Homo sapiens: one gene and its partners. The protein of the gene in region 3 purifies or fractionates together with the protein of the main gene of each other region. This does not show direct contact. Each region holds a gene or a part of one and is shown on either strand. Other genes may lie near its edges.

The links.
Region 1: the proteins of MYO5C (region 3) and INF2 purify together in Homo sapiens (affinity purification with mass spectrometry; one large-scale study listed by BioGRID and IntAct). This does not show direct contact.
Region 2: the proteins of MYO5C (region 3) and AFAP1 purify together in Homo sapiens (affinity purification with mass spectrometry; one large-scale study listed by BioGRID and IntAct). This does not show direct contact.
Region 4: the proteins of MYO5C (region 3) and ACTR3 purify together in Homo sapiens (affinity purification with mass spectrometry; one large-scale study listed by BioGRID and IntAct). This does not show direct contact.

Annotation. Positions count from the first base shown.
Region 1 is NC_000014.9:104,699,618-104,703,117, reverse strand, and holds part of INF2 (inverted formin-2), read right to left. Parts: intron 1,762-3,500; 5' UTR 1,753-1,761; coding exon 1,362-1,752; intron 14-1,361; coding exon 1-13.
Region 2 is NC_000004.12:7,768,862-7,772,361, reverse strand, and holds part of AFAP1 (actin filament-associated protein 1), read left to right. Parts: exon of another isoform or gene 1-158; intron 159-3,353; coding exon 3,354-3,500. UniProt on the Homo sapiens protein: Can cross-link actin filaments into both network and bundle structures. May modulate changes in actin filament integrity and induce lamellipodia formation.
Region 3 is NC_000015.10:52,243,805-52,247,304, forward strand, and holds part of MYO5C (unconventional myosin-Vc), read right to left. Parts: intron 3,211-3,500; coding exon 3,113-3,210; intron 2,239-3,112; coding exon 2,152-2,238; intron 1,662-2,151; coding exon 1,550-1,661; intron 764-1,549; coding exon 552-763; intron 1-551. UniProt on the Homo sapiens protein: May be involved in transferrin trafficking. Likely to power actin-based membrane trafficking in many physiologically crucial tissues.
Region 4 is NC_000002.12:113,893,089-113,896,588, forward strand, and holds part of ACTR3 (actin-related protein 3), read left to right. Parts: intron 1-3,500. UniProt on the Homo sapiens protein: ATP-binding component of the Arp2/3 complex, a multiprotein complex that mediates actin polymerization upon stimulation by nucleation-promoting factor (NPF).

The DNA of each region.
Region 1 (3,500 bases), on a different chromosome or scaffold from region 3:
GATGTGTCCAGGGCTGCCAGGGTGGAGTGGGCAGGCTCAGCAGGGCCAATGCACCCCTTCCCATGCCTGTGCAGCTGGGCTCAGGGCTGGGGCTCTGGGCCTGGCAGGCAGACGCCAGGGGGTGCCGGGCACTTGTCTGTGGCCCACAGCAGTGGGCTGGGACCCAACGAGGTGCCCCACTCCTCGGTGTCCTGGCCCTGCTCCTGGACCACAGGGCCAGACCCTGCAGGGAAGGGCTTGGAGGCAGCTGCCCCATCCTGTCACTGGCTCTGGGCCCAGCTTTTCTCCCAATGCAGCACTTACTGTGTTTATGGCAGACACAACCTCATTCCTATGAACCCCTGCCTCCCACCCCATCTGGAGCTGTGAAAGTTCTGGGGGTGTCTCTCATCTGACCCTGCTGAGAACAATTCACAAAAGACTCCATAGAGGGGCCCTGCCAGGCCCAGGCTGGGGAGACGGGCTGAGAATGGCTGGCCCCTACACCTGCCTCTGTCCCCTGGGTCCGACAGAAACGAGGCGCCTCTGGCTTGCTTGCCTGCACAGGTAACTGCCGCCCCCATGGGCCCAGCCCCGCCCATCACTGCCCACCCTAGCTCGTCCCCAAGCATCGGTAGGACCTGGCAGCAGCCATGGAGTGGCACAGCAAGGGTTTCTCTCAAGGGACCGGGACTAACTTTGGGCACAGCCTGGGGAGACTTCCTGGAGGACAGGAAAGTGAGCTGGGGCTTAAAGGCTTAGCGGCGCAGGACCTTGGAGGACGCAAAGGCAGAAAACACGAGCAGAGGCAGAGACCAAGGGCCTGCCTGCCTGCCGGGAACGAGTCCCCTGGGTGCTGGAGTAGGGGACAGGGCGGGGAGGGAGGCGCTAGGGAAGGCGCTGGGAGGTGGAGGGTGACACCATCAGTAGGTGTGGGCCAGACCTCAAGGGCTCTGTCTGGGCTGAGGCTGAAGGGCTTGGAGCTAGGCAGGTGTATGTAGGGAGCCACTCGGGTGGATTCGCATCTCTGACTCAGTGACTCCTGCCGCCGAGGTGTGGACGAGGGCAGAGAGCCCAGAGGGTGGGAGCCAGCACAGGACGGGGAGGAAGGGTGGGGCAGAGCCACACAACAGAGAGGGGCACAGGGGGACCGCTGGTGCAGCAGTGCGGGGACTGGGGTGACCTGGAAGCCTCAGACTCGGAGTGAATGTGGATGTTTTTCCTGAGCCCAGGAAGCCAGTCCTCCTCCAGGAAGCCCTCCTTGCCTGCCTGGCTGCGCTTCCTCCTGGTGGTTCCCCAGGCCTCCCGGGGCCTTTTGGGCCTGAAGCCTCATACCAGGTCCCCAGCGTCCGCCTGGGCGGCCCTCCCACACTGCGGCTCACCCTGGGAGAGCTGGCGCACGTAGCCCTGGTTGCTGAGGATGTACTCGATGCCCTGCCGCGAGTTCATGACGGCGCGCACGCAGCTGACGCAGGTGAGCTGCAGCAGGGCGTCGGAGATACGTGCAACGCCGCGGCCCGACAGCCGCGCCAGCGCCTCCAGCAGCAGGTCCAGGCCGCTCTGCTCCAGGAACTGCACCATCCAGCCGCCGTCGCTGCCCTCCAGGCGCTTGCGCAGGCCGGAGTAGTTGACCACAGAGGGCATCTGGAGCAGCCGGATGCACAGCTCGGGGTCCGCGCTCTCCAGGTTGGCCTCCGTGGGGTCCGAATCCTGTGGCCCCAGCTTCTCCTTCAGCGCTGCCCACTTGCGCTGTGCGCCCTCCTTCACCGACATCTTGCCGAGCTGCAGGCAGAGGGCAGGGAGCCGTCAGCGGGGAGGGGATGGGGGCTGTCCTCCTGGCCACCAGCGCAGGCGGGGCCACTTCCCTCGGTCTCAGTTTCTCTGCTGCAATTCCTGCTCACGTGCCATGCTGAGGGTTAGGGGTAGCACTGTGTCCCCCACTATATCTTAGGCTTCCCTGTACCCATCCCTGACCGAATTTCAGCAACCGAGGCGGCAGGCAGGAAGGGCCCTACTGCGCGCATGAGGACCCCGAGGCTCAGGGCTGGGAGGGGAGGAGCCGGCTCAGAAACCTGCAGCACGAGGCCAGCACGGCCCCTGCAGAGTGACGGGACCGGATGAGCTTGGGGAGGACTCGGGGGAGCGGGAGGCTCCCCTGGCTGGAACATTACCCACGGTAATGATGCGACAAAACGGCGCATCTGAGGCTGCCTTATCTCACCCCAGGGCACTTCCCCCGCCCCAGTGGACAATATGGACAGGGAGATTCCAAACCTCAGGCATGCCTGGGGTGCCCACAGCGTCAGCAGCGTGGCTGGGGAGGAGGGGCGACTCCCAGGTCTCCCCTGGGCCTCAGTCTGCCCGTCTGCATGTGGGTAGGGGGCCCACACCAACAGGAAGACGGAAACCCTTGGCACTCAGGGTTTTACCAGGATTCAGTCGCAACAGGTCTGACTCCAGCCCTGGGAACACCCGGGTAGGTAACAGGCCCAGCCCAGAAGAGCCCCAACACGTGCCTTTCCCCAAAACAGAACAGCAGGACAGGCGGGTTGCACCTCTGACATCAGCTCCACGCCACCACATCCCCCCAGCCGCTGTCCCCAACCACAGACCCTGGGAACTGGCCTCGAAGGTCAGGGGCATCCCAGGCCCTCCTGCAACCATGTATGGCTTAGATCTTATATTTAGCGTCTGAGAACAGCAGCGTGGAGCCTCGGGGAGGGAGCTAGGGGGCCGGGCCTGGCAGGGACACGCTCTGAGCCTCCACCCCGGCCCAGCACTCTCCACCCTGGCCCTCGGCTTCCCACCACCTCCAAGGCAGGCACTTTATACCTCCCACAACAGGTGGGGAACTGGAGGCGGCTGGGTCCTAGAGAAGCTGGGTCTGTGCCCACAGTCCCACACCTGGGCACGGCTGGGCTGTGACTGGAGGTCCCACATGGCTTTGCTTCAAGTGCTGCCCAACCCGGTAAGTCAGGGGACCCCAGGCTGAAGGGCATTTGAGGTCACGGGAGCTGAGCGGGGTCGAGCACCCAAGCGCCTGCCTCCCCAGGAGGCTCTATTCCTCCCCTCCTGCCTTGGGAGAGTGTCCTGGAGCACCTGCCCTTGAGGTCTCAGGCCCACTCCCCAGCCTGGTCCACGACCAAGCCTGGTGTTTCCGGCAGTCCAGCCCCTACTCCCCGCACCGCCCCTCAGCCCTCCACCTGTCCAACTGCCCCAGGGGGCCAGTGGGCTCCTTCCAGGAGGCAGCCTGACAGGTGTAAGCCAGGGTTCTGATCTGCATGTCCCCAGCCCGGGCCCTCACCAGCAGACCTTGGCCCAGTCACTCATCCTGCCTGGGCCTCAGTTTCTTCTTCTGCACCTCCAGCACCAGGCTGCCAGGAGCATCCTGAGAGGCTGTCCTTGGGATGCCCCTCCTCCCTGCAGGGGGTCCTGGTCTGGGCACTGTAGAACGGAGAGCCCGGAGCCCCCGGTGCACTGTGGTTTTAAGCCACCCTCCCAGGCCCGGCCCTCTTGGTCAC
Region 2 (3,500 bases), on a different chromosome or scaffold from region 3:
ATCCCTGTCCCTGGTTCCTCTTCAGTCATTCGGCTGAGACCGCTGAGAACTTAGACGTCTTCTCCACTTGGTCATTCTGTTGAGTCTCCTGTCTTGTGAGTTGGATGCCGTCACTCCATTGAGCGAGGGAGGCACTGGGCCCAGAGCAGTAAACACGCCTGCAGGGCAGACAGAACAGGCAGCCAGTGAGGGACGGCTGGACTTCAGCCCCTGTTCCAGCCGAAACACCGTGGGTGCCCCTGGGTCCCCACCCACTGCGTCCCGAACGCTCCCCTTCTAGGTCCTTCTTTCCAAACCCCTCAGTAAAATGCTGAGCCTGGTTGAACCCACCGCTGCTCTTCCACATGAGCCCTGGGCGGGTTTGTGGGGAAGATTGACACATTTATGGGTTGACGGCAGCCCTGAGTTTCAGTCACTTGCTGGCCCCTACCGGGCACCACCCGCACAGCCTGTTCTTCCTTACTCTCCCCTTCTCCTCCAAGCCTCTCCCATCCCCCCATCCCTGCCCCAGTCTCCTGTGGCACCCCAGCGATCACCTCCAACCCAGAGGACAACCTCCCTCCCGCCTGCAGAGCTGAGCAAGCAGCCAGGTCACTGCTCTGTCCCCAAACCACAAACCCAGCCACTCATGCATGGTTCTTTCAGGTGTTCAAGAGGTGGCTCTGGGGTCACACAGGCCAGGGCTTGAAATGACTTGACTTCTCTAGGCCCTGAGTTTTTCATCTGTAAATAATAACGGTCGCTGCATAGACTGTGTGTGGACGCTTTTGGCACAGTGCCCACCGAAGCGCCTGTGTTCATTCACATCATTCACATCTTCCCAAACATACACATGCATTCATTCATTCATTCCACTCATCCAACAATTGCTTGTTGATATCATTATATACATTACTGTTATATATTACATAAAATCATATATTCATTCAACATTTATCTATTATATATAAAATACAATTATATATTTATACGATACATACTATTTAATATGTAAAGGTGTGTGTGTGTGTACATACACACATATGCATATGCTGTGTTCCTTCTTGAACTCCTGGGCTCAGGTGATCCTCCCACCTCACTTCCTGAGTCACTGTGGTTACCGGCGGGGGCCGCCATGCCCAGCCCACATTCTGTGTTCCCTCTGTGTGCTACAAACTGTTCCAGGCCTGCAGTTATGAACAAGATAGGTGAGAATCCCTGTTTCATGGAGCTTATCTTCTCATGAGGGAGGCAAACCAATAAAACACGTTGGTGTCAGATGCGGACAGATCTGTGGAGAACAGTGAAACAGTGCTGAGGAGGAGGGGTGCAGGGGGAATTGGAATCCAAGGGCTAGGAGGTGCCTTGGACAACCCCAGTCCCTCATCCAGCATAAATGGGGACAAGAGCATGGTGGGGTCAGGTGCAGTGAGAGTGGCAGTGAGGCTGTAGGCATTGGCTGGGACAGGGCAGGGGTCTTCCCTTGCTTCATGGAGCCCTGTGCCCCTCCCTCTGTGATCTGAGGCAGGAGTGCACACAGTCCCCCACGCTGCTTGTCTTTTGTCCTGCGTGGAGGGTGGTGGCAGGGCAGGAGTGCTCTGAGGAGCTGTCCCGCCCCCGTCCTCTGGTTCTGTTTGAGTGGAGGGGCTGGGCTTCCTGGGCTCTGGTCAGTGCCTCGATCTCATCCTTCCTGACCTCCAGACACCTGGGAGGATCCTTCTCCTGTGTCTTCAGCTTTTCTGTCAGCTTTTTCCAAGCATTTAAGGATTCTCTAGTTGAATCCATCCTTAAAAAAAAGAAGGTTCTGCCTGGCCTCCTGCTCCCCCTGGTGACTGTCCCCTTGCCCTGCGTTCTTGCCTTTCCTTCCAGGGTGAACTTTGGAAGCAGTTGTCCATGCTTGCAGCATGCTTGCAGTGTCCTCTGCCCCTCCTACAGCTTCACTTTCTGGATGTGGCTTCCCATTGCACCTGCTTTCATCATGGTGACCCCCGGCATTCCCATCCAGTGGACATGTTAGTCCTCACTCCCCGGTTCCGGTGCCCTTCGGCACAGCTGCCCACTCTCTTCTATGGTGGCTCCACATTCTTCCACCCCCATGGCTCGAGCTTCCCTCTGGCCCCTTCTCCAGCTCCTGCCTTGCCACCCCCCGCCTCGCTTCTCCTTTGTCCCAAGTATCCTTTGGGGGCCCACGCCTGGCTTGCTGCCTCTGCTTCCCCGCTCCCAGTCCACTGTGCTTTGCGACTTCCCCTCTGTTTTGAGGGAGGATGTCCTTGGTGCCATCCTCTGTCCCCGCATCTGGGGAAGCACTCTGCACCGCTGCAGCCCAGGCCGTCCTCGGGAGAGTGGCTTATTCGGTGGACCCCTCTTGAGATGCAGGTCTTTGGGTCACCTGCCCCTTTACTCACAGCCTAGCCTGGCCTCTGCCAGACACAGATGTCCTGATCATCATTCCATTGTATTCACTCACTACTACCCTAAGCTCCCTCCCGGCAGCCAGGGGCTGCCACTGCATAGGTCAAGTTGGCTGCCTGGGGATTGTGGCCAGTAAAGCCCACAGGGGACCCCGAGCTGCCCATTTTCATGGTAATTGAAACACTGTTCTAAAACAATATTCCATATACCCTGAGCAATATTTTTTACATAACAAACACATTTTGGCAGGAATCCTAGGAAGCGTCTCTTCCTTGGAGACTTCATTTGAGAGAAGGCTCAGCAGACTGTGGCGTTTTTTTCCCCCCAGAGAGCAGTTTGGGATCCCATATGGAAGAGCCAGCAATGGGGGCCTCGGCAGCTCAGGACACATGTTGTTCTATTTTCAGCCTTCCTGAACACCTCCTCCTTTGGCATATGGAAGCTGCCGTAAACACTAGGAAGGCCTCTGTGCTCATGGAGCCTGCTTTTCTCCAGCGAGCCCCGCGCAGTGGGGCTGCATCCCGTTAGCCAGTGCTGCCGTGAGTGCCGCCACTTTCTGCTACCTGAGCATCTCTAGGGCGCTGACCCCAGAAAAGCTCAAAACCTTAAAGCACTGCACAAAGGGACCAGCTAGAGGCGGCAGCAGCTGCATGCAAGAGCCCAGCTTTGAATGCAAAAGACTAGGGCAGGAATCCCACCCTCACTGCTTCCCAGGCACAGCCGGGAGTCAGAGCACCCCTTGGAGCCTCCACCTGCCCGTCGGAGCCTCTGCCCCCCGGCCGTGAATGCCAGGAGACGCTCTGGGGGTGAGGCACTGACCACGTGGCAGTCCTTGCTGCTACTGCTGTTATTTTTGCCCATTTCCAAAACTTATTTCTTCCTTGAAATAAATCATTTTCCTGCTGGAGAATACCAGTGGCCCAGAAACCGCTCATCACATGGGGTTCTCTCTCTCCGTTAAGTCTCCAGTGTTCCGGCACCGGACCCTGGAAAACTCGCCCATCTCCAGCTGTGACACCAGTGACACCGAGGGCCCCGTGCCGGTGAACAGCGCGGCCGTCTTGAAGAAGAGCCAGGCTGCCCCGGGCAGCTCCCCCTGCCGAGGGCAT
Region 3 (3,500 bases):
AGGTAGGATCAGCGCAGCTGGTGGACCACCCTCCCCTCAGCCCTTGGCTTGGCTGGGGCTGCTGTGGTCTTCCTGCTTAGGGGTTCTGTGATTGGTTTGCTGCCAGGCCTTGCAGGGACCCCCTCTGCCATGGTGCACCCCACCTGTTGCTGGCAGGCTGGTCGCTGGCTATTCTTGACATCTGTCCTTTGGATCTTCACTAGGGCCTTGCTGATCTTATGCATTTTCAGTTCCCATAGGAAAGGGGCCCCGGGCCTCTCCCTGAGCTTCCGGAACCCTGACTCTCCTTAGTAACACTCTCACCAGCGCTTCCTCCCTGCAGGGCCCTGGGTGTCGGCTCACCACACAGACACCAGGCAGAGCCAGCACTACCTGCCCCTGAGAGACGGACCTTTCTTGCCCTAATGCTCACGACCACAAAGGGGACCCATGCACGTCTGCACCCTGGGTCACAGGAGAAAGGTCCCTTGTCCTTGATGAGTCCTCCCCGCCGGAGATGATCAGCACAGAAAGCCCCACAGTTCCACATGTGTTCCTTGATTCCAACATACCTCACAGTTTGCTGACCCCGGAAGTACTGCTGGATTATCAGGGCGGCTCGTCTCTCTCGGAGGAATTTTTTCCTCTGGAGCCAGCCACGCATGTGCTTTTGTACCATAACACAACTCTGCCTCAGTTTATCCAATCGAAGTTTCTCTAAATAAGCCACTTGTCCTGCTCTGAAGAAAATTTTGGTTTTACCAAACTGGTACTGATTAGAATCCTGGAAGAGAAAAATGATATAGTTAGAATTAAAATCTGTCAGATTTTCTATAATACAGTATTTGGAAAAGAGCTTTAGGGATTCAAAGGTGCCAGAAATATTGTGATTTTGACATTTAAGGCAGAAAACTCACATCATGATCTAGAAATGTATACTTTGAGTTGTTTGTTTAAAATTACCCTGGAGGAAGAAATGGGACTTAGGCTGAGGAATCCATTTGTGGGTGAGAAGGGGAGTGAGTGTCATTTGCGGCGATTCTCAGTTGGGCTGCCAGAGAACTTCAGCCACTCTCTCGTGGTCTCCACATTGGAGTAGAAGAAACTGGGGAAGTTTGGTTTTCTGTCTCCATTTTGGGTTCTCTTCACCATCCCCTTTGCTGGACCTTATAACTCCCCATCTCTTTCCCATCACAACTCATCGCTGCAGCAATGATGTCAATCCACACAAGGCACCATGCCTGGAGCCCATGTGGCTTGGTGACAACCCCAGTTGACCATATCCTATAAGCCTGGTCCACAGAGGACTGGGTTAGATCGTGGGAGAGCTAAACAGGATACGAGGACACTGGGGAGGCCGGAGTTCGGATGTGGGTCCCTAACGGGGACTCATGGCCCACTGAGCACTCTGCTATGGTCTCTTCAGCAGACAAATGCTCAGGGCACATTTTCTTTCCTTTCAGGTGTTCATGATTACAGTCCTGAGCATTCAAGACAAAGATGAAACAGCATGTTTGGGAGATGTGCTTCCAGGAAGGAGACCATGATCCCAGGAGGTGGGGAAACTGACCTGGATGAGTCTGTGTAAAACCACCTTGCACACCTCCTTTTTATCGCTGAAGGAAAGCTCTTGCTTGGTCATGAGAATGCCGTAGCGACTGTAGAACTCGATGTATGTCCACCTGGAAAATCAAAGGGGATCAAAGCCAGGAGTGTCAGAGGAAGCACATTGTGTCTGGGGACTCCGCTGCCTTACCTGCCACTGTTGTCATAGGGCGGGGGTGGTGCAATCTGTCCTGAGGATAAAGGCACTGATCTTTGATACCCTGCCTGCCTGGGACACTACCAAGACCACCCTGAGCACTCCTGTCTGCCCCAGCAATTGTGCTCTTTCTCCCACTCAGCGTCTTCCCTAGTACACGGGGGAGGCGGTGGGGCCACCACCAGCAGCCGAGATGCAGTGATGGGGTGAGAAGGTGGTGTTGACCTCCGACCCCTACAAAGCCTATTTCTCAACCTCTTCTGGACTTCCACAGGGCAGTGGGAAAATCTTGGGGGCACTTTACAGAAGCCAAAAGTATGTGACAAAAATCATGGCAGCCATGTCCTTGGTTCTCAGCATAGCTCTGATGTCAGGTACTTTTCCCTCCAAGACAAGGACGGACAACATACCTGGAAGGGTAGCTCTGTGCACTAATGCGAATCGTTTCTAAAACGCCGCAGGCTCGCAGCTGCTGAACAATTCTTTTGGAGTCAAATCTTTAAAAAGACAATGATATTATGTGTTGAGGCATCGTAATTGCTCAACATGCCCATAAACAGGCACAGCAGACCTGGCTAGACTGTGACCCTATGCCAGGTACCCAGCAGATACTTAATAAGTTTCTATTGCATGACCAAGAAAAATAGCACCTCTGCAAAACAGTCCATAAAGATGCAGTGGGATATAGAGAAAGGAGCAGCTGACTCTGATGGAGGTGGCATTGAGAAGGCCATGGGGGAACTGGCCTTTGAGGTGAGCTTCAAACGACAACCAGGTGGAAAGAAATATGCTAGCTCGCCTGGCCCAAGCACCCACTGATGCTTGAATTTCCTCTACAGAACACCCAACAGGTAGCTCTGCAGCTTAGGTCTCACCCATCTGGTGACCCATACACACACTCACCACCTCCATAGACAGCTCATCCCCCTTTAGGCACCTCTTTCAGCTCTAGCAAGCTACAAGGGACTTGTTACACCTTATATTCACAAGCTTTGGGTCTCCTCCATGGGTCCCAGAGAACAAGAATAATGCCTCATGCCATCATGTCTGAGGACAAATGTTCTGACCTTCTATGACCTTCTACAAACACACATACTCATTCTTCTTTTAATCAAGTAAAAGGTTCAAGTTGCAAAAACTTTAGTTGTAGAAGATTCTTTCAAATCTAGCCCTTTTGCTTAGCCCTGGAGATGAGGGGGTTTAACCAGAGGGGCTGAGCTAACATTTTATGTAAAGGGCAGCATTGTTCTGAATCATTAAAAAAAAACCCAGAAACAGGGTAATCTCAAGACAATTGGAAGCAAATTCTCCAACTTTATGGCAGAAACTGCCTTCCCACGTCTTCGCTGTGTGTTGCATAAGAACACTTACTCAAAGGGTAACTTCTCATCATTTGGCTTGATGCATCGAACGTAGTGGGGCGTCGTCGCATTGAGGGTCTCCATGAGCAAGTACAGAGAGCTGCGGAACTAGGAAACAAAGCTAGAGATCAAACATGGCTCTGAAATAATTTACTGCTTACATCACGGTAAAAAGCAGCCCAACCTTGTTAAGTTACTCAATAGGAAGAAAAGTTAACCTCATGCATAAACACCTATTATGAAAGGTTTCAGTCCGTGACTGTGGTTTATCAGCATGTCCTACTGTTGTGGACAGAACACTAATACTCCCAGACAGCAGAGAACTGAATAAACCATGTTATTGTGCAAGAGCGTGGTTTGCTCCAGTGCGTGCTGCCTTGGAGGTGGAAGTATGACGA
Region 4 (3,500 bases), on a different chromosome or scaffold from region 3:
TAGATTCCCATTGGTGGCTTGAAAACTAAATAACAGAACTCAAACCTGCTATTAGTGGTGAGAAAAGCATTTTCTTTAAAAGGCATTCACAAACATTTTTTAAAAAAACATTGTAACACTTGTATGATCATCCTAAGGTTTTTTTTTTTCTGGGCGGTGGAAGGGATCGTTTTTTAAATGTGTTTTTTGCTTTTTGTTTTTTTGTTTGTTTGTTTGTTTGTTTTGAGATGGAGTCTTGCCCTGTCGCTGGGCTGGAGTGCAGTGGCACGATCTCGGCTCACTGCAACCTCCACCTCCCAGGTTCAAGCTATTCTCCTGCCTCAGCCTCCCGAGTAGCTGGGACTACAGGCACATGCCACCACACCCAGTTAATTTTTCTCTTTTTAGTAGAGATGGGGTTTCACCATGTTGACCAGGATGGTCTCCATCTCCTGACCTCGTGATCCACCCGCCTCAACCTCCCAAAGTGCTGGGATTACAGGTGTGAGCCACCGCGCCCAGCCTTAAAGGTTTTTTTTAAATGCATGTTTTTACTCAAGTTTCTCCATCATTCAAGCCAAATGAGGGCGCTCCTTATTAACTCCTTGTTATATCGTAGCTTGGTTACAGAGCTGCATTGTGAATTTCCTTTTCCCTTTTATGTCTTTTTTTTTCCCCTGGTAAATAAAATATTGGTAAATTAGTTCCACTGATTATGATAGCAGAGGTTAATATAGCCCTATGGTCAAAGTCTTGGATATATTCATATCTGGAGCAGATTAAGGAATTTTGCTAACTGACTTCAACTTCTTAGCAATCTTAAAATGTAAGCTTAAATATCTTGTAGGTGTCAGTGAAAGAGGAGTATGTTCATCTTGTGGCCACAATTCAGCAATTAGTGCAGATAAGAATGATCTTGTTTGAAGAGCAGTGGGGAAAAGCTGGGTAAATGAAGGAAGGTATATGTGGGAAGTTCATGTTTCTTCCATGAATTCTGTGCGTATTGTTTAATAATAATGCTGTTTCTTTTTTTTTTTTTGAGATGGAGTTTTGCTCTCATCGCCCAGGCTGGAGTGCAGTGGCATGATCTTGGCTCACTGCAACCTCCTTCTGCCTCCTGGGTTCAGGTGATTTTCTGCCTCAGCCTCCCAAGTAGCTGGGATTATAGGCGCCCACTACCACGCCCAGCTAAATTTTGTATTTTTAGTAGAGACAGAGTTTCACCATGTTGGCCAGGCTGTTGTTGAACTCCTGACCTCAGGTGATCCACCCACCTCATCCTCCCAGAGTGCTGGGATTACAGACATGAGCCACTGCACCGGCTTAATAATGCTATTTCTTTAGCCATCTCCAAAGGCAGAAATATTCACAATAGCTTCTTAACCAAAAAGCACTCATTGAAATTCTTATTCCTTGATGAGTCATGCTTTGCATGCTGTTTGAAGTAAGTACAACAGACATGCTCCTAGTGAGAAGTCAGACTCTTACTTAGACTTAGCGAAAGACTCTCCCTCCTTTCCTGCCTGCCAATTTTGTGTTGAAATATTGACTTTGGATTGCAAATACTATATTGCGGTGAACGAACTTTCAGGCTTATTGTAAAACACAGTTCAGAATTTTAGGCACAGAACGGAAAGGTCCTGTGGAGGACCTGCTGGCCATGCTTTCTGTGACAGCTATTTTTTAACCTAATTTTATAAGTGAAAAAACAGAATGAGAGAATTTAAATTACCTTTTTGATGCCGTCTACCTGGCAGGTGGTTCGATCTGCTATTTGGACCTGAGTTCTGTATTTAAGTCCTGTGTTCTTTCTGTTAACACTCCGGGGACTCCTGACTGCCTTTTCAGAACTTTATGTGTTGCTTCATTGTTGTTAGTAAAGTTAACTGTATTTCTGTTTAAAGAACTCTTACAAAAAAAAATCTCAGCCTTATGAATTTGATTCACCTAATTAGAGAAAACCCTCTGTGTAATCTTTACTTGGTTTAGGTTCCCCCCCCCCACCCCCCTGCCGATATGTGAATGCCTAGACTATTTCCTTGTTACTTTGCTTAAATTTAATCTCTAGAAAAAAATTACTCTCTAGGTTGTGTTTCTCAGGAAATAATAATAGCTAGCATTTATCGAGAATTGTATGTCAGCCCCTGTGCTAAATGCTTTATATTATCTCATTAACTTTCACAACAACCTGGAAAGTATTATCTTTGTTTTATAGGCTAGAAAATTTAGTCTTAAGAGAGGTTAAGCTACTTACCCAAGATACTGTAGCAAGTAAGTATGGCAGAGCCACTACACTAGATCTTCCTTCCGTAGAAGATGAACGTTTGACATGGCTTGGTGCATAGTAGGAATTCAAATCTTTGTTGTATGAATGAATGAACAAGAATTAGGAGTATGGTTTTTAAAAAAACTGTGCATCAGAAACACCCCATACCCAGTGACTCAGAATCTCAAGGGTTGGACTATGAATATTCATTTACATAGGCTTCCTAGATGATTCTTCAGCAGCCCATTCAAGGGCTAACTTTGCAGAAATTCTGAAACCTGGTATTGGCGGTGGAGTTGGAGCAGAAGAGATAAGTTAGGAAAAGATTGGTTTTTTCCTTTCTTTTTACGTTTCTTCTGGCAGTTATATTTCGTGTTATTTTATTTACGGGTAGCAAAGGCTTTGTAGTTATCTGTTGTTGAGTTCAAGCTCTATCACTTAATAGCTATATGACTTTATACACTTCAACCTCTGCAGGTCTTATTTCTTCCCATCTGTAATTTGGAGATGATAGTGTATACCTTATAGGTTTTTTTTGTTTGTTTTTGAGACTGGGTCTCTGTTGCCCAAACTGGAGTTCAATGGCAAGATCATGGCTCACTGCATCCTCAAACTCCTATGTTCAAGCTGTCTTCCTGCCTCAGTCCCCCGAGTAGCTGGGACTACAGGCACATGCCACCATGTGTGGCTACTTTTAAAAATTTTTTGTAGAGATGGGGTCTCACTGTGTTGCCTCAGGCTGGTCTCAAACTTCTAGCACAAGTAATCCTCTTGCCCTGACCTCTTAAAGTGTTGAGATTACAGGAGTGAGCCACCATGCCCAGTTTTGTTTTGTTTTGTTCTGTTTTTTGATAATGTGTGAAAATGGTTCAGCACAGTGCCTGGCACACAGTAAGGGCACAATATATTTTAAATATAATAATTGGTTGGCTTTCTTTTTTTTTTGAGTTTCAGTTCTTAAAGAAAGGAATACAGTGTGTTATGCTTATTTTCTTATCTCCTGCAGGCCTTGGCCTGCCTACCACACACAGTTCTCTGCACAGTCAAAATGTTTTTGCTGATTTGAGAGATTGAAGGAGGTATAGCTAGGACTTGGCAGTTGATTCCAGTGGATTGTAAATAGGCATCAATGAATAGTTCAAGATTGTAAGCCTGAGTGATTGGGACAATAAGGGAGTTAGTTTTAAGAAACTGAGTAAAATTGGAATTTGTTGTTGAATTTGGAATGATGATTTATAATTGGAAACATTCTAGA